Linked DNA regions of Homo sapiens. The protein of the gene in region 2 purifies or fractionates together with the protein of the main gene of each other region. This does not show direct contact. Each region holds a gene or a part of one and is shown on either strand. Other genes may lie near its edges.

Region 1 (7,025 bases), on a different chromosome or scaffold from region 2:
AAAGATATTACTCCTTCATATAAAATCCGGCCCCTCACAGAAGCAGAAAAATCTACTAAGGTAATGCTAGATTGCTAGATATAATTACTATCTAAAATAACTAAACATTTTGGAGAGATAGACTTTTTTTTTTTGAGGCAGAGTTTTACTCTGTCGCCCAGACTAGAGTGCAGTGGCGTGATCTTGGCTCACTGCAACCTCTGCCTTCCGGGTTCAAGTGATTCTCCTGCCTCAGCCCCCTCAGTAGCTGGGATCACAGGCATGCGCCACCAGGCCCAGCTAATTTTTGTGCTTTTAGTAGAGACGGGGTTTCCCCACGTTGGCCAGGCTGGTCTCAAACACCTGACCTCAGGTGATCTACCCGCCTCTGCCTCACAAAGTGCTGAGATTACAGGCATGAGCCACCACGCCTGGCCTAAACGACTGCCGCGTTTTTTGTTTTTTGTTTTTTTAAATAGTACTGGGTGTATACTAGACACACATATTTTATACTAATTTTGGGCTTTTAATGTTCTGATTTTAAAAAATGATTGACCTTTTTGGTCTTTTCAGACCCGAAAAGAAACCCAGAAGTTAAGAGAATTTGAAGAAGGCCTGGTTAGCCAATACAAGTTTTATTTGGAAAATCTGGAACAAATGGTTAAAGGTATATTAAACATATCTTCAAAGTTTGTAACATACTTAGCCTTGATCATGAAGGTGAATTCTGTACAGTGTTCTGTGTTGTGTAGTGAGAGGCAGGTATGGTCAGGAACAGAATCTAGAGTCAGACTTCCAGGGGTCAAATCCTGGCTCCACCACTTACTACCTATGTGATGGGAAAATTACATAGTCTTTCTGTGTCTCAGTTTTCCTGTCTAAAAAATGGAAATAATTATAGTACTTACCTTCCAGGATTATTGTAAGAAGTAACTGAGTTTGTAGATATGAGGTGCTTTAAACAGTGCCTAGCATGTACTATACACTATATTTTATCAATTATTAGTATTATTGCTGCAGTTTTTAGTAAGTAGTTGTATTTTTGTTGACTACAATGCATTTAACAAAATACATTGTTATGAACAGTTGGGATTTATTCTGCTGTTTTTTATTTGGAGGCATGGTAGTCAGGGAAGAAGGATAACTAGAGGCCAGGCGTGGTGGGTCACACCTGTAACCCCAGTGCTTTTGGAGGCCGAGGCAAGAGGATTGCTCGAAGCTAGGAGTTTGAGACCAGCCTGGGGAATGTAGTGAGACTCCTGTCTCTAAAAAAAAAAAAAAAAAATTAGGCATGATGGCCCATGCCTATAGAGCCCCAGCTACTGGAGATCTGAGCTGAGAGGATCACTTGAGTCCAGAAGTTTGAGCCTGCGGTGAGCTATGATTATGCCACTGCACTGTAGTCTGGGCGATAGAGTGAGACCCTGTCTCAAAAGAAATGAATAAATAAATAGAAGGATAACTAGAAATGGATATTTGCATGTCTTGAAAATGGATTTATGAGTCAATTATTTGGGATGATAAACTCTTAAACTCTTCAGAAAAGGAAGGACATAGAAAAAATAGGGGTAGGAATAGGGAAGACAGTTGTTGCCTAGGCCAGGTGTTTTCATTTGGCCTAATTGGCTCATTTACCCAGCTTATTTACTAAGATCACCCATTGCTGTCAGCTGGAACAGGACCACTGAATCCTGTTGGCCTAATAAGGGCATAAAGGTAGTGGAGTATAGTGGGGTGGGGGTGGGTAGTATGGATATTGCTTCTATGTTCTGGTGTTCCAGCTGGCACCCTATTAGTGTTTGTTCTTCCAGTGAGAGGGCCTGGGAGTTTTTCTTTTGTTTTTGAATTTCTGAACTGTTTGGAAAGCTCCTGGGATCTTTGTGCAACCATCTCTGTCTGATAGAACTATAACATGAGCCACATATGTCATTTAAAAAAAATGCAGACACACTAAAAAGCAATGAAATTAATTTTAATAGTATATTATATATATTCAGATTATCATTTCAACATGTAATAAATTTTAAAAATTAATGTCTTACATTCTCAGTTTTTTTTAGTACTAAGTTCAAATCTGGTTTGTATTTTATACTTAGAGTGTATTTTATACTTAGAGTATATCTTAATTTGTATTAGCTGCATTTCAAATGCTCAATTGACTCCTATATGTGGCAGTTAGTAGCCTCCATATTGGACCTTTCCTGAGCAGATCGAACCATTATGAAGTCTTTTTTTCTTCTTCTTTTTTTTTTTTTTTTTTGAGACGATGTCTTGCTCTGTCGCCAGGCTGGAATGCAGTGGTGCAGTCACAGCTCACTGCAACCTCTGCCTCCCAGGTTCAAGTGATTCCCCTGCCTCAGCCTCCTGAATAGCTGGGACTACAGGCGTGTGCCACCCACCATGCCTGGCTAATTTTTTTTTTTTTATGTTAGTAGAGATGGGGTTTCACCATGTTGGTCAAGATGGTCTCAATCTCCTGAGCTCGTGATCTGCCCACCTTGGCCTCCCAAAGTGCTGGGATTACAGGTGTGAGCCACTGTGCCCAGCATATGAAGTCTTTTTTTAAGGGGTGTGGGAATGTGTGTGTGTGTGTTTATGTGTGTTAAAATGTACATTGATTGTAAAAGAAAGCCAATTAGTTTAACTTTTGACCAATGAGTAAAGTAACTACAGTTATCTTTTGATTAGATTGGAAGCAGAGGAAGCTGAAGAAAAGTAATGTAGTTTCCTTAAAGGCATACAAAGGACTGGCAGAAGTCGCTGTGAAGAGCTTGTGTGAGCTGTTGGTGGCACTACCTCATTTTAACTTTCACAACAACATCATCGTATTGATTGTCCCTCTCATGAATGACATGTCAAAATTGGTGAGTTGCTGTAAATGGTTATTGCTGTCCTCCTTAGAAAATTATACACCATGTGGGCCAGGCACGGTGGCTCACACCTGTAATCCCAGCACTTTGGGAGGCCGAGGCAGGCAGATCACGAGGTCAGGAGATCGAGACCACCCCAGCTAACATGGTGAAACCCCATCTCTACTAAAAATACAAAAAATTAGCAGGGCGTGGTGGCAGGCGCCTGTAGTCCCAGCTACTTGGGAGGCTGAGGCAGGAGAATGGCGTGAACTCAGGAGGCAGAGCTTGCAGTGAGCTGAGATTGCGCCATTGCACTCCAGCCTGGGCAATAGAGCGAGACTCTGTCTCAAAAAAAATAAATAAATGAATAAAAAAAGAAAATTATACACCATGTGATTTTTTTCCCCCTACAAAATTCTTCTGAAGTTATTTATTGGTAAAATAATGTCAATTTATTAAACACTGTCTATCTGAAGAAAATTATCTGAACATAAGTTTGGTGTAGTGGTTCACAACAGGAAGCAAATTTGTCCCCCAGGGAACATTAGGCAATGTCGGCATACATTTTTGATTGTGATGACTGTGGTGGCGATAGAGTCTTAACTACTGGCATCTAGTGGAGAAAGTCCATGGAGGCTTTTAAACATCCTAGGACAGTCCCCCTACAACAAAGAATTCTGTTACCCAAAACGTCAGTAGTGCTAAGGTTGAGAAACACTGGTTAAGTATGACATTTTATTTTTCAGATATCTGAAATGTGTTGTGAAGCTGTGAAGAAACTCTTTAAGCAAGATAAATTAGGCCAAGCTTCTCTTGGTGTAATTAAAGTGATTTCTGGTTTTGTGAAGGGCAGAAATTACGAAGTTAGGCCAGAGGTGAGCCTTTTTTTTTTTACTTTGCATTTTGTTTTTAAATTACAAAGTTGATTTTCAGTTGTTATGAGGAATTTATTCCTTATAAGTGTATGAAGTAAAAAGTATTCAAGCTCCTTAAGTGTTTAACATGTCAACTCCTGAAATGTTTGATACTATTAACAGTTCGGTATTTATCCTTCTAGATGTTTTTCTTTGCAGATATAGTCATATATACTTGCTTATATTTTAAAATAAAAAATGGGCTTATACTTTGAAAACTGTTCTGGAACAGTTTTCATTTTCTATATTGTGAACTTACATATAGGGTTATCCCATTCTTTCTAATGCCTACCAGAGTATTCCATTGTGTGCCCTAATTGTTGAACAGCTGAGTTTTTTCTAGATTTTTGCTGCCACAGTCAGTGTTGAGAACATTTTGGCCATATTATTTTTTCATATTGTGTGAATATTCTGTGAATTAAATTTATAAAATGTAGATGCTGGATCCAACAGTAATCACATTTACAAACTCAAATTGTTGTTCAAAAACATTTAATCACTGTGTTCCTGCTAGGAATATGAGTGTCAGTTCCCTCCTACCTGCTCAGAATGTTACTATTTAATCTTTGTTAGTCAGGTAGGTGAAAAGTTTATATATATATAAACTTTTTTTACCTGCTTATTATTTGTCAGTTTTTCTCTTAAAGTAATTGTCTTAATGACTTGTGATGAGTTTTTAGTACATATTCATTTTAATAAATAACTGCTATGTGCCAGGCACTTTTTTTAGGTCCTGGGAATAAAATAGTAACAAAAGAAACGAAACTATCTGTTTGTGGAGCTTGCATTACATAAAGAATATTAACTCTTTGTTACATAGGTTGCAGATTGTTCTCTTTTTTACTTTGCCTTTTAATTCTGTGTTCAGCCTTATATATGAAGCTATATTTTTTGTTATGCACATAGTCTCCTCAATCCCAATTTACGGAGTCTCTCCGAGATTTTTAATTTTAATTTTTATATTTAAATATTTAAACCATTTGACATCTTTGTATGTGTGGTATGAGTACAGATTTAATATCTGTGTTTAATATATGTAATGAATATATATTTTATATAGTTTAATATATATTGAATATTTATATTATGTATATATTTGATATAATCTGACAGCCAGTTATTTCATCACCATTTTTTTTCTGCTGATATAAAATGCTGCTTAATTATTGTGTTATATCTATAGTATATTTGGGTATGTGGTACAATAATAATCAGAAAGGGTATAATTGATAAAAGACATGACTATTCTTTTTTCTCCACAATATTCTTATTTATTTCAGTATATTACTCCAGGCAGTTTAGAATCCATTTTTCACTTCCTTCCCTCAAAATAGTCCACACAGAGAATCTGATTAGAATCGATTCAATGTATTGATTAGTTTGGATGAATTAAAATATTTACAGAATTGATTTTTTTCTATTCAAGAATATCATATCTTGCCATTTATTTAAGACTTCTTTTATGTTCTTAAGTAAAATTTTATAGTTTTCTTCACTGAGGTCTTAGATATTTTAATTTGTCTTTAGTAATACAGTTTTGGGTGTTAAGCTGTTCTACCATTTTATTTCTGGATTTCACAGTTTTCCTTTGGCATCAGATTCCTTTTTATTTTCTTAAATCTGATTTCAGTTGAATTGCTAAAATTATAAACATTAAATGAAAGTAACAGAGCATATTTAGCATCTTTACTTAGAATTGTAGAGCAATCAGATAAGGCTTGAACATGAAACTCAGCCATAGGAAAACCCTTTAACTTTCGTGATGCTAGAGTAAAAACTACATCATTTGATTTGGAGTTATTTTTCGTTGGTAGGTGATATTTTGAGCACATACAGTACCTACAAAATATTCAGAGTTGGTCTTTCTGATACCTAGAATGACTTCAGGTTCACTCTTTATGCCTTTAGTTATTCCTTGTTTCATTCTGTGCTTTTAGCCGTGTAATCCCAAATACTCAGCTTTCTTCCAAATGTGCATATTGGAACATCAAAATAATACAAACCTGTAGTTCTCAAGGTTTTTTCCAGGAATGCTGCTGTGCCTGCGGGAGGTCGGTAGGGTGATTTCATCCAGAGAAAGTGTAGCATTTTAAACCCCTTTTGTTCTTAGTGTTTGAGTATGCGAAGTTTGCTGTATCACACAAAACACCAGTTTCCAAATTAGTTTCTGAATTTTTGAATGGCATAAAGCAATAATTTTTATTTTTGTCCCCAGACCAGCATCAGCTGGGAATTAGAATGCAAATTCTGGGGCTCAACTCAGACCTACTAAATCAGAAACTCTGGGGATAGGGCCCAGCAATTTGTGTATCTTCTCCCATACTGGTCCAAACCTTTTCCTGGCCTGTTTTCTCTTTGTCATCCTGTTGGCATGTGTTCTCTCTTCCTTATACTCATTAAACTGCAAAGAAAGTTTTGTATATTTAGTTAGTATTTGCTAGCGTCCGTTTTGTATGTTTGCTCCCGTCCTTCCATAGACACAAGTTATTAATATAGCATACAGATAAAAGAAGTTGGTGTAAAATGTTATAAAAGATGTTTGAAGGTTTTTTCATGAACGAGGGAAATAACACTGTTAAATGCTTTTCTATGTAAAGTTTTTGAGGGCAATATAAATATTAAGCTGTATATTTGTGTTTTTTTTCCAATATTAGATGTTAAAAACATTTTTATGCCTAAGAATCAAGGAAGTAGAAGTGAAAAAAGATACAGAAGACATTAATAAACCAAAAAAATTTATGACTTTCAAAGAAAAGAGAAAATCTCTATCAAGAATGCAGAGAAAGGTTTGACTTATTTCCCCTTTTGTTTCATTTAAATTTTCTGTTTATTTGATCTTAGATTAAACTTATAGGCACATGTAAAAATCATAGTTAAATCATAAACATAAAAGTTTTGAAATACATCATTTAGAGAATTTTATCTTTTCCTGTTACTGCAAAGAAATGTTTTCTTAAATCAGTTTTAACTGATAATGATTGGCAAGGAGAGCAATAGATGAAAAGATATTTTTGCCATGCTGGCTTTTATCCTTTGGCTTTTTAGATCAATTTAGAGTTATGATACACAGATTCCTTCCTTAACAGAAAAGATGCATTCACGTGAAGTTGGCAGCAAAGTGAGTTTCTGTTAATTGAATCTTGTTTCTTTGTTGGTTTGTATTTTAAACTTGGGTTGAAATTTCAGCCGCTTGTTTATTTACTGAAACTTTGGAAACTTTATTTATTTATTTATTTATTTTTTGATAAACGGGGCTAATAATAGTACCTACCTTGCAGGG
Region 2 (7,025 bases):
GGTTTTTAAATAGTCCTCTTGTTAGAAAAGATTTAGCCCTTATCCTCAATCTCACAGCCACTAAATAGTCAATTCACACAAGCCAAGTGATTTGTAAAATAGGAGTCTCTGCAAACTGAGTCCAACCAGCTTGAATAATAGCATCATAACATAATGGGATCCCTTTCTGGTGGTAGTGTCCGGGACCAAATACCAAAATTCCTATTTTAAGCTGTATTAAGATTTTCTAAATGTAGCTATGTTTCAAGAGAAAATGCTTGGTCTATGGATAGCTGAAGCCATGTAAAACAAGCATTCTTATCACATGGGTCCAATATCGCTGATTTTACATGGCAGATAGACCTTAAAACGCATTCCTACTTTTCCCACTCCCTCCCACATTCTTTAAAAGGGTAGGGTTTATTATCTCTCTGAATACTCAAATGAAAACTTAAGTGTATAAACAAAACTAGAAAAATCCTTAGATTAAGATGGGAGGAAGATGGTCTTTTGACCTCTTAATATTAGTTTGATCTAACATCTTTTTTTTTTTCTATTTTTTGAGACTGAGTCTCATTTTGTTGCCCAGGCTGGAGTGCAGTGGCGTGATCTCAGCTCACTGCAGCCTCCACCTCCCAGGTTCAAGCGATTCTCCCACCTCAGCCTCCTGAGTAGCTGGGACTACAGGCCTGCGCCACCATACCTGGCTAATTTTTTTTTTGTATTTTTTGTAGAGACAAGGTTTCACCATGTTGGCCAGGCTGGTCTCGAACTCCGACCTCAGGTGATCCACCTACCTCCCAAAGTCCTGGGATTACAGGCATGAGCCACCGCACTCAGCCTGATCTAAGTTCTTTAAATGATCATTCCATATTGTTAAACAATGTTTCTAAGTGAGAGGTAGAGAATTATATTAGTTGGTAGGAGGCCTAAATGCTTGAAGACAATTTAGAGAAAACTAGTTATTTCCTTGGCACAAAGTAAATCCTACTACTCCTGAAGTATAAGAAAAAATAAAAATAAAAACAATAAAAATAAACAATTCTTTGATCAAATAATTTTTTTAATTGACTTGTTCTGATCATTAGGGCCTACTTGTTCAGCCCACTATCCTTACATGCATTAGTGGATTCCTTCTCTTTTTTATCTCTGAAGATTTCAGAAGTAGATCAGTGGATTCCTTAAATGTTAAAGAAACCCTGTCTTCTGTAATCCCAGCTACTCTAGAGGCCGAGACAGCAGAATCGCTTGAACCCATGAGGTGGAGATTGCAGTGAGCCGAGATCGCACCACTGCACTCCAGCCTGGGTGACAGAGTGAGACAGAATGAGACTCTGTCTCAGAAAAAAAAGTAAAGAAAGAAACCCTTGCAATCAGAAAGAAAAAGAGAATTACAACTTAAAGTGACTAATGTTAAATATACTATTATATTTGGACTATATATAAACTAGAAACCTCCAGGGCCTGGCCTCAGGTGGAGTTGTCTTGCAGCTGATTGCTTGGCTCTCTTCTCTCTTCCCAACCTGATGTCATCCACTTCCACAACTTTAAATGCCATGAAAGTGATGGCTTGCCATTTCCAGCCCTGCCCTCTTCCTGGGCTCCATTGTCCCTCTATCCTCAGCCACGTGGCTGTTTCCTGTGTCCCACAAAAGTGCCACGAAGGAAACCCAGCTCTTCTCTCCAGACCTTACCCCAAACACCTCCTTCTCATCTTAATAGCATCATCAGTTGCTCAGTCACAAAACCTGGGCATTCTTGATCTCTCCCGACCTCACCCCCACCATCGGGAGAGGACTCATCAAGAAATTCCAGAAGCTTAAGTGTCAGGGACTCTCCTTTGCTCAGGACCCTCTATCTCATTTTGTGTTACCCCATTGCAGGGTCCTCTATCTCATTTTGTGTTTAGTTTTTATTTTTCTTATGGAAGGCCCTCAAACTGTATGATTTAGGCCTCACAAACCTTGGATCGGCCTCTGCACCCTCTGTCCAGCTCATTTCCAAAAGAAAACTATCTCAAAAAAAAAAAAGAAAGAAAGAGAAAAGAAAACCATCTAAAACCGACCACACAACAGTGAACACTGTTGATTGCTACCACCTCAGTCCAAGCCCCATCCCACCCCACCCCACACTGCAGCCAAGATGATCTTTGAAAGTTGAAAGCTTCTCAGGTCAGATCTCTTTCTTAACCCTCCACTAGATTCCCCTTTCCCCTAGGACAAGTCACACTACAAGAGGCAGGACACGGTGGCTCACACCTGTAACCCCAGCACTTTGGGAGGCTGAGGCAGGTAGATCACCTGAGGTCAGGAGTTCAAGACCAGCCTGGCCAACATGGTGAAACCTCGTCTCTACTAAAAATACAAAAATTAGCCAGACGTGGTGGCGGGCACCTGTAATCCCAGCTACTCGGGAGGCTGAGGCAAGAGAATTGCTTGAACCTAGGAGGCAGAGGTTGAAGTGAACTAAGATCACGCCACTGCACTCCAGCCTGGGTGACACAGCAAGACTGTGTCTCAAAAAAAAAAAAAGAGAGAGAACAAGTCACACTACAGAACCATCACAATGCCCTAGTAGCAGAACATGCTGCTGAACTATCAGGGTGCCCTGGGTGATCTGGCCTCTGCTGGCCTCTCAACCCTCTCAGCTTTAGCTATCCCCTTCTTTCCTTTCTGGAATACCCCAACTTGTTTTTGCCTCTGTCCTTCGTATTGTCACCTCTGCTTGAGAGAGCCTCCTCCATTTCTTTATTTGCCTCATCTTTCATTGTCACCTCCTCTCAAAAGACTGTCCCGGCAGGGCACGGTGGCTCACGCCTATAATCCCAGCACTTTGGGAGGCCGAGGCGGGTGGGTCACAAAGTCAGAAGTTCAAGACCAGCCTGGCCAACATGGTGAAACCCCGTCTCTACTAAAATACAAAAAACAAAAATTAACCGGGTGTGGTGGCGGGCGCCTATAGTCCCAGCTACTTAGGAGGCTGAGCCAGGAGAATTGCTTGAACCCGGGAGGCGTAGGTTGCAGTGAGCCTAGATAGCGCCACTGCACTCCAGCCGGGGTGACGGACTGGGACTCTGTCTCAAAGAAAAGAAAGACTGTGTCCCTAGGGTATGACCCCACTCCAAATCCAGTCATTCGTGATCCCATTATCTTCTTTTTTCACCTATAACTGTATGCAAGTATCTTATCAGTTTACTTGTTTATTATCTGAATTCTTTCAAAAGAGCTAAGCTCCCTGAAGGTGGGAACCCTGTCCGCATGCTCACCGTGGAATCCCCACAGCCTAGCAGCACCTCCCACAGAGGGGTGCCTAATATTTTTCTAAACAAATGAATGAAGAAAATGTTCATTAAACAAATACTACTGCAGTTAAATGTGGCATCAAGCAGTACTACACATAGGATGCATGGAATTGAAGCCTATGAACCATTATAAGGTCCCTTTCATTTGTTCCTCATTAACTGTGGATGACTAAAAATCCATGCTGCCAATAGCTCCAACTATGAGATGCAGATCGATGTCACAATTCAGACTCCATTATGTATGTCCTCACAATGCAGGAGGTGAAATGTGTATGTCATGTGTCCAAATTGTAAGATACTTGCTGTAAGTAGCAAAAAGATGGGAAGGAAAGTCTACAGACCAAATCATATCTGAATCTCCCCATTCTCCCTCTCCACAAATATTGGTTTAGGAATTCTCCGAAGTTTGAAGGTTATGAATGGTTATCACTCAAGGATTCAGAACTAAGGTAAAAATACTGTGAATGATAGGGGGAAAAAATCACTAATTGAGGTCTAAATCAATATCCTTCAGCTCTCTAAGGAAATGTATTTTTAATATAATAGCTTTATTGAGACATTCATACACCATAAAGTCCAAATTTTACTTTTTATTTTATTTATTTGGTTTTTTTTTTTTTTGAGATGGAGTTTCACCCTTGTCACCCAGGCTGGAGTGCAATGGCATGATCTCGGCTCACTGCAACCTCCACCTCCTGGGTTCAAGCAATTCTCCTGCCTCAGCCTCTTGAGTAGCTGGGATTACAGTCGCGCACCACTACGCCCAGCTAACTTTTGTACTTTCAGTAGAGACAGCGTTTCACCATGTTGGTCAAGCTGGTCTCGAACTCCTGACCTCAGGTGATCCACTCGCCTGAGCCTCCCAAAGTGCTGGGATTACAGGCATGAGCCACCTCACCCAGCCTAAAGTTCAACCTTCTAAAGTGTACAATGGAGTGTTTAGTATATTCAGTGGGCTGCACATTCATCACTATCACCCTTTCCTCACCCTAAAAGAAAACTCCATACCTGCTAGCACTCACTGATTCCCCTACCCACCCCATGCCCAGGCACATGGCAAGCACCAATCTACTGTCTATGGATGTGCTGATTCTGGACATTTCCCATAAGTGGGACCAAAAAAATGTGTGGTCTTTTTGTCTGATTTCCTTCAGGCAGTCTAATGAGTTTAAGGTTCACTCATGTTGTTACATGTATCATTACTTTATTCTTTTATTGCGAAGTAATATTTCCTTGTATAGTTAGAAGACATTTTGTTTATCCATTCACCAGTGGATGGACAGTTGAATTGTTTCCACTTTTTGGCTGTGGTGAATAATGTTGCCATGAACATTCATGTACAAGTTTTTGTGTCAACATATGTTGTCTTTTCTCTTGCACATATACCTAGGAGTGAAATTACTGAGTCAAATGGTAACTCAGGCTGGAGTGCAATGGCACGATCTCGGCTCAACGCAACCTCTGCCTCCCAGGTTCAAGTGATTCTCATGCCTCAGCCTCTCGAGTAACTGGAATTACAGGCATGCGTCACCACACCCAGCTTATTCAGACTGTTTTCCAAATTGGCTGTAACATTTTATGTTCCTATTAGCAAAGTATGAGCGTTTGAATTTCTCCACATTCTTGTCAACACTTGCTGTTGCCTTTTTTATTAAAGCCATTTTATTGGGTATGAAGTGGTAACTTACATTGTGGTTTTGATTTGCATTTCTCTAATGATGAATGATGTTGCACATCTTTTCATGTGCTTATTGGCCATTTGTATATTTTCTCTGGAGAAATGTCTATTCAAATGTTTTACCCATTTTTTTAATTGGGTTGTCTTTTTTTAATTGAGAGTAGGGCTTTTTAAATATTCTGGATATAAGTCCCTTATAAGACATATGATTTGTGGCCAGGCGCAGTGGCTCACACCTGTAATCCCAGCACTTTGGGAGACCAAAGTGAGTGGATCACTTGAGGTCAGGAGTTCAAGACCAGCCTGGCCAACACGGCAAAACCCCATCTCTACTAAAAATACAAAAATTAGCTGGGCGTGGGGGCGCACACCTGTAATCCCAGCTAATCTGGAGGCTGAGGCAGGAGAATCACTTGAACCTGGGAGGCAGAGCCTGCAGTGAGCTGAGATCATGCCAATGCATTCCAGCCTGGGTGACAGAGTGAGACTTTGTCTCAAAAAATATACATTATTTGCATATATTTTCTCCCATTCTATGAGTTGTCTTTTCTCTTTCTTGATGGTGTCCTTAAAAGCACAAAGGTTTTAATTTTGTGAAGTTCAATGTATCCATTTTTCTCTTCTGCCTTTTGTGATTTTGATGTCATAGCTAAAAAATGATTGCCTACCCCAAAGCGATGAAGATTTAGTCCTATATTTTCTTGTAAGAATTTTATAGTTTTAGCTCTTACATTTAGTCTATGATCCACTTTGAAGTTTTTATGACGTGAAGTATGGGTCCAGCTTCATTCTAACGCATGTGGATATCAAGTTGTACCGGCAACAATCTTTCCACAGTGAACAGTCATGGCTCCTATATTAGCCAGGGTCCTCAAGAGAAAATGAACCAATAAGAAATAGATGGATGGGCACAGTGGCTCACACCTGTAATCCCAGCACTTTGGGGGGCCCAGGCAGGCAGATCACTTGAGGTCAGGAGTTCGAGACCAGCCTGGCCAACATGGTGAAACCCCTGTCTCTATTAAAAATACAAAAAATTAGCTGGGTATGGTGAGGCACATCCGTAGTCCCAGCTGCTCAGGAGGCTGAGGCACAAGAATCACTTGAGCCTGGGAGGCAGAGGTTGCAGTGAGCCAAGATTGTGCCACTGCACTCCAGCCTGGGTGACAGAGTGAAACTGTCTCAAAAAAAAAAAAAAGGTAGATAGATAGATTTATTTTAAGGAATCTGCTACATAATTATGAGAGATGGAAAGTTCAAATCCTGCAGGGCAGGCTAGCAGGCTGGAAATTCAGGTTTGAGTTGATGTTGTAGTCTTGAGTTTGAAATCTGAAGGGCAAACCAGCAGGTGGAGATTCGGGCAAGGTTTCTGTGCTGTGGTCTTGTAGCAGAATTGTTTCTTCCCCCAGAAACCTCCATCTTTGCTATTAAGGCCTTCAACTGATTAGATGAAGCCCACCCACCTTGTGGAGGGTAATTTGCTTTAGTTAAAGTCAACTGATTATAAATGTTAAATTGTATCCACAGATACTTTCCCAGCAACATCTAGACTGCTGTTTGACCAAACAACGGGGCTCCAACAGCCTAGCCAAGTGAAACATAAAACTAACCATCACAGTATCCTTGTCAAAAATCAGTCTGACAACACATGTAAGGTTTATTTCTGGAGTCACTATTCAATTCCATTGATCTATATGTCTGTCCTTATGCCGGTAACACTTGTGTCTTAATTATTATAGCTTTTTTTTTTTTTTTTGAGACGGAGTCTAGCTCTGTCACCAGGCTAGAGTGCAGTGGTGGAATCTCAGCTCACTGCAATCTCCGCCTCCTGGGTTCAAGCAATTCCCTTGCCTCAGCCTCCCAAGTAGCTGGGACTACAGGCATGCACCCTCACGCCCGGCTAATTTTTTGTATTTTAGTACAGATGGGGTTTCACCATGTTGGCCAGGATGGTCTCGATCTTCTGACCTCATGATCTGCCCGCCTCAGCCTCCCAAAATGCTAGGATTATAGGTGTGAGCCACTGCACCCGGCCATTATTACAGCTTTATAGTAAGCCTTGAATTC
Region 3 (7,025 bases), on a different chromosome or scaffold from region 2:
TGCCAGGGTTGGATGTGGTAAGCAGAGTTCAGTCTAGGCACTGCCCCTGCCACAGAAGTTCTGTTTGGCATCACAGAAGGTGGACGACGGGTACGATGCTCTTGGCTGTACCCTGTGCTTCCAGGGTGATGTGGAGTGAGCTGCACGGCAGCGAGGGTGATCTGGAGTGAGAGTGCACGGCAGTGAGGGTGATCTGGAGTGAGAGTGCACGGCAGTGAGGGTGATCTGGAGAGTGCACGGCAGTGAGGGTGATCTGGAGAGTGCACGGCAGTGAGGGTGATCTGGAGTGAGTGCACGGCAGCGAGGGTGATCTGGAGTGAGAGTGCACGGCAGTGAGGGTGATCTGGAGTGAGAGTGCACGGCAGTGAGGGTGATCTGGAGTGAGAGTGCACGGCAGTGAGGGTGATCTGGAGTGAGAGTGCACGGCAGTGAGGGTGATCTGGAGTGAGAGTGCACGGCAGTGAGGGTGATCTGGAGTGAGAGTGCACGGCAGTGAGGGTGATCTGGAGTGAGAGTGCACGGCAGCGAGCCTGGGAGGGGAGGGCACTCCTCCACTAGCCATGGACTAACGTGTGGGTCGTGCAGGGAGATTCTGGTTTGATTCCACGTGAATGGTGCTGTATTTGGTCCAGTGACAAAAACATTGGAAGGCAAATAGAACCACGGTATTGTCCTTAAGGGCCCAAGCCTGTGGGCTGGTTTAAATTGGTCTCGGTTTCTATGTTATTCAAAGGTTGGGAGACATTTGTACGCTGAGATTTTTAACAATTTTATAACAGCCTCATGCTGTATTTTCAGCTTTAGTAACTTTAAGGAAATACTTGCTGAGATACGCTCTTTATTCTGTTGCCTGGTGTTTGTGTTGAAATGGATTCACAATAGTTAGCAGAAGCTTAAAAATGTAGGACTTAGGTTAGTGATTTTTAATCAACTCCCCAAAACATGATCTGAGCCCGTGTCTATAACCATTGTTGACTGCTTTGAAGTCTTCATGGGCCTCAGTGTCCTCACTGCACGTTTAGCTGGTTGACCCACGGTGGTTGGACGCCTGTTCTGTGACACTGAGGCCAGAGCTCTGGGCCAAGGAGATGCACCCTCTCCTCGCCAGATCCTGTTCTTGGCTCCGGAGTGTTTGCGGGGAGGGCATATGGATGGACTTCATTTACCTTCTTTAACCTGTGGTAACACTTTCTTTCCAGCTCATTTATTTGAAAATCACTGGGCTGCTATTTCCAACTTCCGACTTCTGGCACCCAGTGGTGACCCCTGCCCTCGTGTGCCTCAGTCAGCTGCTCACCAAGGTGCGTTCTCTCCACATGCGGCAGGGGTCGGCCTGCTGCACCACGGGTGGCCGGAGCCACAGCCCCTCGGGGCCTTGTGGAACATGAGTGTGGCTGTTTAAGGGCTGCAGAGACCGAGCACTGCGGTTAGGCCAAAGAGGGCCCATCTAAAAGAGCCCCGGCTCGAGCAGCCCCAGATGTGGGTGGGAGTGGGAGGGCCTGGTTTGGCACCTCAAGGTTACAGATGGTGCTACCCCAGAAAACAACCTTTCAAGTTAGTGGTGAAGTTATCCAGTGTGATGATAAGGGCTTTTGTTCCCTTTTTGGCTTAAAAAGTTCAAGCTGTTCCTTTTTCTTTATTAGGCATGTGATTGGTACATGCTTAGTGCAGTAATCGTACGCTCTGTATGGGTGGAAGGAACTTTATAATCAGTATAGCTCTGGCCAGGCGCGGTGGCTCACGCCTGTAATCCCAGCACTTTCGGAGGCTGAGGCGGGCGGATCACCTGAGGTCGGGAGTTCAAGACCAGTGTGGCCAACATGGCGAAACCCCGTCTCTACTAAAAATACAAAAATTAGCTGGGTGTGGTGCCACATGCCTGTAATCCCAGCTACTCGGGAGACTGAGGCAGGAAAATCACTTGAACCCGGGAGGTGGAGGTTGCAGTGAGCCGAGATTGTGCCATTGCACTCCAGCCTGGGTGGTAAGAGTGAAACTCCGTCTCGGGAAAAAAAAATCACTAAAGCTCTTTATCTTGTTTTCATCTCATTTGATGCTCTCGACACTGCTATAAGGTGCGGGGGTTCCCTCTGTACTTGTGAAGCTCAGTGGGGTGCGTGGTTCATCAGGGAAGCCCGGTGGTCGGCCTAGCATGGCATGACATCGTCCCAGGACAGTAACCCCCCATATGTTCCTTTCCAGTGCCCCATCCTGTCCCTCCAGGACGTGGTGAAGGGCCTGTTCGTGTGCTGCCTGTTCCTGGAGTATGTGGCTTTGTCCCAGAGGTTTATACCTGAGCTTATTAATTTTCTTCTTGGGATTCTTTACATAGCAACTCCAAACAAAGCAAGCCAAGGTGAGTTGATTTGAGGGAGGTTCCTACAAATATGTTATACTTTAGAATTTTTTTAAGTAGTTCATACTCATTGTAGAAAGTTTAGAATATGCGAAAGTAGAGGAAACACACAACCTGCCACCCGCCGCACTGTCTGTCCCTCTGTGTGAGCGTGTGCACGCGCCACATGGGGAAAAGCAGTGCTACCGGTGACCTGTGCTGTCCAGCGTGGTTGCCAGGGGCCAGAGTCTGAACTGAGACGTACCCTACCTGTGACATATGCCCAAGTGGCGAAGACTTAGTGTCAGAAATACTTAAAATATCTTAATTTTTTGTATTATGTGTTAAAATCATAATATTTTGGTATTTGGGGTTAGATAAGGTCTATTGTTAAAATCAATCTTAACTTTTTACTTTTTCTCACGTGACGACAAGGCAGTGTGAAAGTTCTCGTGCAGCTCACACAGGCCGCGCTGCTGTGTCGCTTCTCTTAACGCTCTGAATTCAGGAGCGAGGGCGGCAAGAGCAGTGTTGGGATGAGGAGCAGTCTGCACACTGGCTGCCCTCCTGGGCCCTCACCCCAGCCCCTGTGCTCCTCCCCCTTCCCCTGATGCCAGCCCTGCTCCTGGATGCTTCCTCAGCACTTGCTGCTTCCCTCTGGGGGGTGAGGAGCTGCACAGCCTCTTCCTGAGCTCTTCCATGTCTGTGGACGCCTCTCCCAGCCTGACCAGAGGTTGGACCTCAAGGCTCAGACCCCTGTCCTCTATTTCCAGCTCACCGTGCAGTGCTAAGCGCCTGCATGTCCAGGGGACTGACCTGAGGAGCAGGTGCTGTGGCATCATTCACACCACCAGCAGAGTCCCTTCCAAGAGGGGTCTGGCCCACTCTTCCGGTTCAGTGCTCCCATTCTGCCACCACCTGCCTCCCAAGGCTCCTGTCTGTCAGGCTCGGTGCTGGGCGCCAGAGGGGCGCGGCCGCCCACATGCTCCCTGCCTCCGGGAGAGCCACCTGTAGATAGCTGCAGTCCCACGTGTGAAGGGCTGTGACGGAACAGGCTGGGCACAGGTGGAGTCAAGGAAGGGGTGGGCATCTCGGCTTTGGGGAAGTGTGGGGCGGGGCCTGACCCACGCCTTCCCCTCTCGCTTGGCCCGGCACCTCTGCCCCACTGTACCCACTCTCCACCCCTCCCCGTGTAGCCACACCCTCGGCCTGGATTGCCCTTCTCCGTGGCGAGTGAATTGACTCCTGCGTCCTACAGGCCTTTGCTGACGTCTGCCCCTCAGGCCTCTCCCGCCCTCCACCGTCACCCCCGACTGACTCTCCTGTCTCCCTCCTGCCCCTCCACTTTCCTTTCTCGTGTTCTGTCTGGTCCATTTGCTCCTCTGGGTGCTGTGCACTGCCTGTCTCCCCGACAGGGGCAGGGACTTCAGTCTGTTCCCGGATGTGGCCTGAGCGCCTCATCAGCCCCATGTGTGCCTAGTAGGCCCCAGGAAGTCTGTGGCCAGCAGGCCTCTCAGGCAGGATCAGGCACTTGGCTCTCACCGCGCCCCCTGCCAAAGCTTTTCCCCTCCCCTGAGGTGTCCCTGCCCACGCTGAAACCCTCAGTGTCTGGCACAACCCAGAAACATAAAAATCGGTGTGCGTCTGTTAGAGGGTGAACTTCCACAGGCTCGGTGCCGCAGAGCCTGCTGGGAGCCCAGTAATGTTCAGGCCATCTCTGTCCTGTCGCACTTGGAATTCAGGTTCCACTCTGGTGCACCCTTTCAGAGCGCTTGGGAAGAACTCGGAACTGCTCGTGGTGTCTGCTAGAGAGGATGTGGCCACGTGGCAGCAGAGCAGCCTCTCCCTCCGCTGGGCGAGTAGACTGAGGGCCCCAACTTCGACAGAGGCCAATCACATCCGGTATGTGAGGGGACCCCGCTTTGGGGCCTGTGCCCTACAGCGTCCCCAGAGGCAGGAGAAGCCACTCGTGCTTTCTGATGTGCTGTTCTTAGTGAACTTGCCGCCCGGCCGTTTGGTTTGATGGAGGCCGAAAGCCTTTCTGAGGCATGTTGGCTTGCTGTCCCTTTTTCTTTTCATTTTCAAAATACATTTGCTTGATTTCACAAATCATAATTTGGAACCAAAAATGGAGCCGCCCCATCCCAGCTGGCGCTGCGGTTCCCACAGCCTCCCCTCCTGCGTTAGGCCTGACCCTGAGCCTGCCTTGCCCGTGGTTGCATGGGCCCAACCCTGGCCGGCCAAGGTGGCCACACTGGAGTTTTCAGCCTAGTGGAAGTGGGGAAGTTCATTTTTGCCACGTTATTGGTTTTGTCAGTGACAAACAGAACAAGTTGGACCTCCTCTTGCCTCCTGCCCTCACAGACTGTCCTGCCTGGCTGTGGGCCTGGCCCTGCTGAAGCGCTGCGTGCTCATGTACGGGTCCCTGCCATCCTTCCACGCCATCATGGGGCCTCTCCAAGCCCTCCTCACGGATCACCTGGCGGACTGCAGCCACCCGCAGGAGCTCCAGGTGAGGCTTCCCGGCCACTAGGGTGCTCTGCCTGGGCTCAGACATGTCCCTGAGCTGGGGCCAAGCTGGTGGCAGTCAGTCATTTGATGCTGCAGCTGTAAGTCAACACCATCTTTGCAAAATCACAAATATGAAGGGAAGTAAAATCATAAGAGTGGGCAGTGACGGTGAGCAGTGCTGGGCTGGAGTAAAGCAGATGCTGCATCTCAGGCGGCAGCTGGGAACTGTCGCCTTGTGTGCTTCCTCCAAGAGGCCGCACGGAGGGTGCACCAGCGCCCAGGGGTCAGCCCCTGCCAGGCCTGGACAGTCAGCTCTGAGCCGCGCTCTGCAGTCCCGATGGGTTTTCCAAGGATGGTCTCACTATCCTGCACAAGGTGACAGGAAGCCCCAAGGGACAGTCTCAGCTGGACCCAAGAACAAGTCTTTGATGGCACATCCTGTCCTCTACAGGCTGCTCCAAATTCACCTATGGCCTACCCGCCTCCCTGCCTTTCACCCTGACCCTGACAGGCTGTACCCTGCATCCACTTCCTGCTTGACATGGCTGTGGCTTGTGCCTTTCATCCTGCCCCAACCCTGCCCCTTATTGGCCCGCACCAGCCCAGGATGCTGCTGGAGCCGAAGGCATCAGTGCCATCTCCGCAGCTACCCCCACAGGACCGTCCCGCACCACCAGCACAGCCCTGGCAGCCTTGCCTCGTGCCTTCCCCTCATGCGCTCCGGCCTCCTCGCAGGCCTGGCTTCGTCTCTGGAGTAGTTCTCTGCACCTAGAACTCCCCACAGCCATGCTGCTCGCGCCCACACCCTTGGGAAGCCAGGCCTTCCCTGGCCCACACTGTGCCGTGCTCCCTGCGTTTTGTCTGTGGTGCTGACCCCCGGGCACGTTACACCGTCCTTGTCTCTGCCCCACTAGGATGAGAGTTCCATGAGGACAGCAACTCGGCTCGTTCCGGCCAGGTCCCTGGAGCATAGAGCAGATAAGCTAGCTATCACAGACTCCGTCGCCTGGTCAAAGGCTGATGAGGATGAGATGTGAGCCCTGCCCCTTATCCTGTATCCACTTCCTGCTGGTGTGGCTGTGGCTTGTGCCTTTTATTTAAAAGAATTTGGGTTGGCCTGGCCGAGGGGCACAGCAGGTCTCATGGTCTCGGTAGACTGGGCCAGTCAGGCCCTTGAGTTTGGTCTCCATGGAGACGAGGCATTCCGGCACTCGAAGGTTACATCCACATGGGCCCAGGAGTGGCTGTATCTGTGGGTGCAGCCAGGGTTCCAGGACACACCTGTGCAGGAGAAAGCGGGTAGGACCAACCTCAGTGAACTACCTTTCGGGAGATTCCTCAGAAGCCACCAGCCAACTCTTCTGGAAGCCAAGGTCTTGGTGAAAATGGGTCTTAACCATCTGGTTCTGTTGGCTTGAAAATAAGGTCAAACTGCCAAGACTGGTGGAAACCCTGCCCCGCCTAGCACCCAGCGTCAGTTTGCACACTGGGCTCTAGCATGCACACGGCCCCCCGCGGCAGAAAGGGGTTCTCCTGTGAGCCTTCTCACGAAGCAAGTGGCTCACGGCCTTTCGTGCCAAGTTTGTCTGGGAAAGAGGGGTTCTGTTGACGTTTCTGGCTGTGAGGAGCACAGGCTATGGTGACCTCCAACTCCCCAAGTCCCCTCCTTTCAGAGAGTGCTCTCAGGGGCCAGCCCACGGCCCTCCCTCTTCAAGAAGACAGTGGCTTTACTTCGTTCCGGCTGTGCCAGGACTTGAGCAGCCACAGCCTTGGCTTACCCCCCCGCCCACCGGTAGGCGCACAGCAAGGGCACCATCCTGCTGCAGGGAGCTCGCAGCACTGTCCTCACGCTGCCTTGACACCACAGAACCCGTGCGTGGAGCTCAGGGCACGCAGCAGGTGAGTCATCGCAGAGTCGGGGATTTCGTGTTTTTCAGGAGCTGTGTCAGAGCACACTGACCGAAATGGAAAGCCAGAAGCAGCTCTGCCGGCCGCTGACCTGTGAGAAGAGCAAGCCTGTCCCACTGAAGCTTTTCACACCCCGGCTGGTCAAAGTGTGGGTGCTGGCAGCATCTCCCTGGGAGGCCAGGGCTGTGGGCTCAGTGGGAGCTGACGGGGGGCGTCTGCCAGTTCTGCAGTTGAGCAGATGACTACGGAGTGAAGCCACACTCCCAAGCAG
Region 4 (7,597 bases), on a different chromosome or scaffold from region 2:
CCAAGACAGGACACTAATTTTAAATTCATTTTCAAAGAAAGACAATATAATGACTTTAAAAAAATTATCATCTAGCACTATCACCCTTACACAACCTGTTTCATTTGCTGGATGTTAGTTTTACCCCTCCTTTCCTCTGTGACAAGTTTGTCTCTCTTAATAAAATTAATCTCCCCCCTACCTGTGCTCTATATTGGTGTTTTTAAAATTGCAGATGAATCAAGAAACCAATTGAACAGATTGCCAGTATCTTTTCTTTAAAACCAGACTGGAATTGAAAACAAATATAAATGACATTACAAGTAGTTAAGGATAAGTAATGTTTCATGAAACTTGTGTTTCAGTAATGTTTGTGTGTGGATAGCAAAGGTAAAATTTATTTCCTACTAAGCGTTCTGGTCAAAAATGCTTGTTCTAGATCCTGCTTCTTCAGATAACCCACCTTAGTTAGATACGTTACTCTTTATCCTCCTGCCTCCATTTCCCAATTTCTTCCTTGATTTCAGTTCTTTCCCATTAGTATTTAAATAGACTTAAGTCTCTCCTAAGTATTTCCTCTTTGATCTCAGTGCCCCCTTATCAGGTAAGTGTCTGCAATGAGAAAACCAGCCCCTCCCTGGCCCCCGAGACAATCTCAGCAGGGACTCTCTCACCCCTGCTGCAATCTGGTTTGAGCTTTACCAATTACTGCAAGCGCTCTAATTAAGAACCTTCAAAGGCACTTTGGAGTTCTCTCTTTCTTAGGAACCCCTTAATACACCTGATATTGTGTAAATCCCTCTCTTCTGGCTCATTTAACACCACATTTTCTTGAATGTCCTCTTGCTTCTTTGCCAATAAATTTCCTTGGCCCCCTTTTCTCTGCCCATCCTTAAATGCTGATTTATAGGCACAATTTCCACCAAATAGGGGTGGTGTCTCAACCATTAAGTGGCTTCAACTGCCATCCCTGTGCTTCTAGTCCTGGTCTCTTATTCCTAACATCCTGCCCTACTAAGGGTTGTGGTTCTACTGCCAGTTTCCATTTTCACATGGCATAAAAGATAATGTCAATCTGGCAGCTTAACTTTCTGGAATCATTCTTTATTTCCATCTCTAGCATTTTAATTTACCCTTTAGCTATACCAAACTACCCACTCATGGTTTCAAACTAACAGCATATGTTACGGAAACAGACTTTCTGAGCTTGAATCCCAGTTCTAGCAATTACTTTGCAACCCTGAGTAAGTCACTTGATTGCTCTGTGCCTGAGTTTTTCTGTAAGATAGGAAAAAATAATAGAACCTAACTCTAAAAATTATAAAGGATTAAATCAGTTAGTACATATAAAGCTCTTAGAATTATGCCTGACATATTGCAAGCACTCTGTAAGTACTAGTTTATTTATGCTACTGGGTCTTGCGATACCACATACTTACACAACTTTACTCGGCACTACTGTTACTGAATTTTACGTTTTGGTTCCTTAATATTTTGGATGTAGTCATAGTCTCTACATTCTTCACAAAAGCTCACACACAACTTTAACTTGCAGATTAGGCTTTTGGGTATTTGAGAAAATTACTATTTTTACATCTCATTCTTTGTTGGGGCTCTCTCATCATTCTTGAGGGTTTAAAATTACAGAGTAAAGTTAGAAGGGGCCTGAATAATCATCCAATCCAATCTTTCCACCTAATACAAGAATATCTTCTAACTTCTGTCATCCAACTACTATCTGAACCACTTCTGATCATCATCAATTTCATTTCTGAGCACTGCCACATTGCCAAACCAAAATCTGCTTCCTTGTAATTTCCACTCAACCTGTGTCTGACCTTAGGATCAACCCACAATAAGGCAGCCCCCTTTCCCACATGTAAGTTCTCTAAATATCTTGAGGTTTTTTTCTCTCCCGAGCTAAACTAGTTCCTCCAGTCATTTTTCATATGAAGTAATTTCTAATCTTTCTACCACTCTGGACACCTCTGAGTTCCAATTTATACTTGAACTCACAGAAAAATTCCAGGTTTGGTTTAATAGCACATGCATTCAGAATTAACCCCCACACCCTGTCATCATTAGATTTTAACTTTATTAAATGAGTTTAATTACATGGAAGCATAAAAATTATAGTATGTTACTCAGCACTGATGTTGATAATCAATAAATTTTTATTTCGTTATTCATCTTCTTAAGTTTTCCTCCTATCACCATTTCACAGCTACACTGTGAGCTTTATTATTACAAAGTCCTGCTTCCACTCCTGGATCTTTAATTTAGGCCTCCAATCCAAACTCAATCCTTTTATCTGTCACCTCAGCCCCACTAGTCTCCTAATACTCTTCCCAATTCATCAAGACTATTAATCTTCTCAGGTACCAAGAATTCCCTTTCCTCAGGAATGATATGCTTCAAAGCACTGTCTAAACTCATCAGGCCAACCACACTATTCTTCAATGATCACCTCGACTATCACCTCTTCTGCTCCTAGATAAAATGCTACTGAAGACAGACAGCAAGTCATACAGGCCTGCACCTGCAGGCAAGTCTAAAATTCTTCCAATGTTCAAACCATTGTATAACAGGTACTTATAGAGGTAATACGGTGAGGGGTTAAGTGCCAGAGGGTTCCAGAGTTAGATTACCTGGGTTTAAATCCCAGATCCATCTTTACAAACTTGTGACTTGGGCAAGTTAGTCAACTTCTGTTATCCTCATCTGTATAGCAGATATCATAAACTCACAGGATTGTTCCTGTGAATAGATTTACAGGATAATAAATGAGATAATGCATCTAAAGCATAGTTCACTGCCTTGCTCCTAGTAAATACTCGATAAAGATTACTTGTCAATAACATAATTATTTGTGCATGCATCATAAAACTTCATGACATTATATGTCTTTGTGGTGTTTTTTCTAGAGATAATACTCCATAATTTTCGATGATTTTCCTTCATAGAACGGGTTCTTGCTTCCTCTCCAGCTGTCAAAATATTAGCCCTTCTATGGGAAACCCCAAGCCCCAATCTTCCACTGAACCTTAAAGATACACATGGCCATCAGTAATGTAGAATTTTCTTAACGGTTTACCTGTATTTATATTTTGTTTTTGTATTTCTTGATTTTATGTTGTCTAGAATTACCTTTTATATGACTAAGTCTAACGCCTACAATTAAATTCTAAGTTCCCTGAAGGCAAGAACTTTATTAGATACTTCTGTAGCCCATACAGCAGTCTACAAATATTAAGAGAATATAAATCAAGTGAACTGAATTGCCTAATGCTAAAATAAACAACTTCTGTAGATTTAATTCTCAAGGCTGAACTTAACTTGTAATAACTTTATTTGGAAACTATTTTCTGCAATTTCAGTTATCAAAGATCATCTTTGAAACTCTTTCCAGACTTTAGTGTTGAGTTTAACTTCTAAAATGCTTTGTTAATTTCAACATACTCAATTCATCTAATACACTTAAAATAGTATTTCGATTCTAGCTATTTTTTCACAGAAACTTGTACCATTCTACAAATGCCAAAAAACAAACATTCAAGAGAATTCTATTCTAAATCTACTCCCAACCATTCGCTGAAGATTACGCCCTATCCCAATACTAGTCGAGCTGCCAAACCACGTGGGTATGCTAAGATTTCAAAGTTCCTCCAAGAGTGAATGATTTGCACGTGTGAGGACTAAACCTTAAAATGTGACAATCCCTTCTTTATTTTACAAATCAGGCTTTGAATCCCATCTTCTCTGCCAATGAGGATGTTTTTTCTCAGACTTCTCTACATACATGCCCCCTCTCTTAGTCTTGAGGAGCGGGGAAGATCGCAGGCCGACCCCTCCACCAAGCACCATTTCCTCAAATCTAGTTCAGGTTAGCCAACGCGGACAGCAACGCTCCCTTCAACGCTCCTCCTCCCCCTAGAACGGAAAAGACGGAGGAGATCCAGTTCGGGCTGACAGTGAGAGGATGCAGCCCGGTGTCTGGGCGGGCTCTTACCGGCGAAGCGGATCTTCACGAGGTCGAGCGGATGCAGCGCAAGGTTGGATAAGACGCCGCCGCTCACGCCCGCTATCAGGTTCTCATACCGGACGTGGCGGAATACCGTGCTCCACGCCGACGACCCGGACGCCGACTGGCCCTGGCCCGTCATAGGCTCGGGGCCCGTCGACACCACGGCGCCCAGGGCCGCGGAGGTGGGACGCGATGCAGTGGCCGCCACCGTGGCGACGGTCGCCCCTTGTGAGCGCAACCCCACCTCCGGGACCAACGAGAGGACTCTTATGCCCAAGGCGCGTGAGCGAAGCCGGAGACTCTAGTACTGAGGGGGCAAGAACGGGGCACAGACACTACGTCACGCCGGCGGAAAGCGCGATGGAGGGGAGGTCCCAGCCTCTCCCGAGTCTCCGCCCTGCCTCGCCCACAAATGCTCCAGCCCACGGACGCGGAAGCGACTGCACAGCTAAAGAACCGCCCCTTGCTAACGTTTGCCGGCAAAACTACGGAGCGGCGCAGGATCCAGTTGAGCCAGCAGGCCGCCGCTCCGCGAGTCACGTGACTGGAAGTAGTCTGGGAAAAGCGGAAGTCGCCTGTGGGAGGAGGTGGCGGTGGGCGGAACTCCTAGCGGACACCTCGTGGAGTCCGGCCGGAAGAGCAACCGAGATGAAGGTGAAGATGCTGAGCCGGAATCCGGACAATTATGTCCGCGAAACCAAGTTGGACTTACAGAGAGGTAAGATAAGTTGGTAGGGAGAAAGGGACGGTTTCCGCAAGTCGTTGGGTCTAGCCTCGGCTTTCGCGGAGTAAAGCCGGGGGAGGCTGGCACTCTGGTCTGGTTCTTTCTCAGTTACCTTTCGCTAAGGCAAACTTTGTGCTTACGGAGTCGCTGCGGAACTGGATGGATAGCAAGTAAAGTCTGTTCAAGTCCTTTTTCTAAGAATTTCCTCTAGTGGTGAGTGGGAAACAGTTGTCTATAGTGGAGAAAAATTCCAGCTGCTGCTCTGGGATTGTCTTCAGGTTCCTATTACTGAAAAGTGGACTTGAATGAGCCAAACTCGTGGGTTGAAGGGCTGAGAGTTAAACAGGCTTTTAAAACCTTCCTACTGCTCTTCTTGCCGCTTTACTACTTCACATTAGTTGTGGATGTTGGAAGAGACAAAGATGAATTTAAAAGCATCAGTTTTCTCTTACCATCCCTTAAGAAGTTTGATGAAAGAATGGTTAAATGAAATTAATTTATCCTTCCTGGTCTGTTCCCCCGTTAACATGCTAACCACTTATAAATTGTACTTTGTGATACCTAAATGACAAGGGACCAACCATGCGTAAGCAGATTGTTCTAAATAAAGAGAATAACAGGAGCAAAGGTCTTCAGGCAGGAATGAACCTAAGGCATAGAAAGAAGGGCTGTGTCATTAGTTTGAATGAGGAGTAAGCGAGATGAGATGAGGCGAAAACAGTATTTCACTATTTTGGTTGAGTAGGAGATATTATCAACATGTGTGTGAGCATTGCTAATAAGTCTCTGCTCAAAAGATGTTTACAGTTTGTCACAAGGCAGTAATGTTTCTAAAATATAAATTAGATTTGTCACTTGGATTTGGCATCGTTCCCAGTCCTTGAATCTCTGGTCCCACCTTCCTTGCCACTTTAGTCAGTCACTACGTTTCCCACAAGTGGTTTAGTATTCACCCTTGCAAATCTCAGTGCGTTTCAGTCATCTTTTTTAAGGCCTCCTGTGGCACACACCCTTACCCAGTTTAGCCGCTTTCTCTGGAAGACTTTCACCGAACAGTAATCTGTTCCTGCTTACCTCCTGCATGAGCCCCGCCCCCTTCAGCACCCGTCTTCTGTGATTCTATCACTTCTTCACAGTGTTTATCACATTGTCTCATGATTATTATTTTGGTTAATAGTCTTTCCCATCAGACTTAGCCTCCAAAAAGGGGAAGAATCATGTTCGTGTATGCACTGTTAAGACAGCACCTAGCACATAGTTGCTTTAATAAATGTCAGTTTCTCCATCTATAAAGATTCATTTTTGCCTACATGAAGAGATTTAGAAACAAAATGATCTATCTTGTTGGGGTTTTTAAACTTCTGTTGAAATTATTAAAATGCTAATTTTAGTTGTAGGAACAGCTGCTGACATCAGAGTAGATAGAAATTTTCTAGACTTCAAAAATAATCTTTGCAAAACTGATGGATGAGACTGAAAATTAAATATATTAAATAAACGTGGCCAATTATGGACATTATCATTTTGGGTATGCTTTCTTTGTGAAGTACAGGCATTCTGCACTTTGCACAGTACCATATTAACTGAACCAGTCCCACTCTTTAAGAGGTTTACAGTGATTGAAATCACATCTGTTAACCACGAAACTTTGCAAAGTGGGGAATTGATTCCAGTATGCAACCCGTCCCGTTAATACAGTACAGTGCGAAAGTGAGTACTGCTTGAATTTTTTTTATAATAGTAGCCATTAAAACCAAACATTGAATTAAGCTGAAATTAGAACCTTTAAATCTATCACAGTGTTGAATCAAGATTTTTCTTAAAAAAAAAGATCTTTGGCTGGGCGTGGTGGCTTATGCCTGTAATCCCAGCACTTTGGGAGGCCGAGACGGGCGGATCACGAGGTCAGGAGATTGAGACCATCCTGGCTAACACAGTGAAATCCCGTCTCTACTAAAAATACAAAAAAATTAGCCCAGCGTGGTGCTGGGTGCCTGTAGTCACAGCTACTCAGGAGGCTGAGGCGGGAGAATGGTGTGAACCCAGGAGGCAGAGCTTGCAGTGAGCCGAGATTGCGTCACTGCACTCCAGCCTGGGTGACAGAGGGAGACTCCGTCTCAAAAAAAAAAAAAAAAAAAGAACATCTTTAATTACATGCTCTCATTAACATACACATATGTTGAGAAGGGATCTGCTCAAAAACTCTGTTATTAATGGGGCACACAGAAAGTTTGAAGACTACTATATAGGGAGCCTTTGGAAGTTTTAAGCATGGGAGTGACATGTAAAAAGCTGTTTTAAGATGACATCTGATAGGCTGGGCGCAGTGGCTCACGCCTGTAATCCCAGCACTTTGGGAGGCCGAGGCGGGAAGATCACGAGGTCAGGAGATCGAGACTATCCTGGCTAACATGGTGAAACCCCATCTCTACTAAAAATACAAAAAAATAAATAAATTAGCCGGGCATGGTGGCGGGTGCCTGTAGTCCCAGCTACTCGGGAGGCTGAGGCAGGAGAATGGTGTGAACCCGGGAGGTGGAGCTTGCAGTGAGCCGAGATTGCGCCACTGCACTCCAGCCTGGGCAACAGAGCAAGACTCCGTCTCAAAAAAAAAAGAAAAAAAAAGACATCTGATAATAGTGTAAATTGCCGCCAAATCAAGTAGGGATGATATTAAAGTAGCCCAAGTATAAGATAATGAAGACCCAAACTGCCTGGGAATGCAGTGGCTCACATTCATAAACCCAACACTTTGGGCGGCAAAGGTGGGAGGATCTCTTGAGCCCAGGAGTTCGAGAGTAGCCTGGGCATCATAAGGAGACCCCCGTCTCTACAAAAAATTTAAAGATTAATGGGGCATGGTGGTGCAT

The links.
Region 1: the proteins of IPO5 (region 2) and NOC3L purify together in Homo sapiens (affinity purification with mass spectrometry; 2 studies listed by BioGRID and IntAct, with this or other methods). This does not show direct contact.
Region 3: the proteins of IPO5 (region 2) and NOP14 purify together in Homo sapiens (affinity purification with mass spectrometry; 2 studies listed by BioGRID and IntAct, with this or other methods). This does not show direct contact.
Region 4: the proteins of IPO5 (region 2) and DCAF13 purify together in Homo sapiens (affinity purification with mass spectrometry; 2 studies listed by BioGRID and IntAct, with this or other methods). This does not show direct contact.

Annotation. Positions count from the first base shown.
Region 1 is NC_000010.11:94,345,931-94,352,955, reverse strand, and holds part of NOC3L (nucleolar complex protein 3 homolog), read left to right. Parts: coding exon 1-60; intron 61-552; coding exon 553-646; intron 647-2,667; coding exon 2,668-2,843; intron 2,844-3,577; coding exon 3,578-3,706; intron 3,707-6,399; coding exon 6,400-6,531; intron 6,532-7,025. UniProt on the Homo sapiens protein: May be required for adipogenesis.
Region 2 is NC_000013.11:97,956,675-97,963,699, forward strand, and holds part of IPO5 (importin-5), read left to right. Parts: intron 1-3,672; exon of another isoform or gene 3,673-3,729; intron 3,730-6,485; exon of another isoform or gene 6,486-6,608; intron 6,609-7,025. UniProt on the Homo sapiens protein: Functions in nuclear protein import as nuclear transport receptor. Serves as receptor for nuclear localization signals (NLS) in cargo substrates.
Region 3 is NC_000004.12:2,939,404-2,946,428, reverse strand, and holds part of NOP14 (nucleolar protein 14), read left to right. Parts: coding exon 1-17; intron 18-1,199; coding exon 1,200-1,301; intron 1,302-2,202; coding exon 2,203-2,356; intron 2,357-4,077; coding exon 4,078-4,237; intron 4,238-4,699; coding exon 4,700-4,847; intron 4,848-6,783; coding exon 6,784-6,902; intron 6,903-7,025. UniProt on the Homo sapiens protein: Involved in nucleolar processing of pre-18S ribosomal RNA. Has a role in the nuclear export of 40S pre-ribosomal subunit to the cytoplasm.
Region 4 is NC_000008.11:103,410,796-103,418,392, forward strand, and holds the start of DCAF13 (DDB1- and CUL4-associated factor 13), read left to right. Parts: upstream 1-4,590; 5' UTR 4,591-4,651; coding exon 4,652-4,721; intron 4,722-7,597. Other genes in the region: SLC25A32 (solute carrier family 25 member 32), read right to left, coding at 3,989-4,142. UniProt on the Homo sapiens protein: Part of the small subunit (SSU) processome, first precursor of the small eukaryotic ribosomal subunit.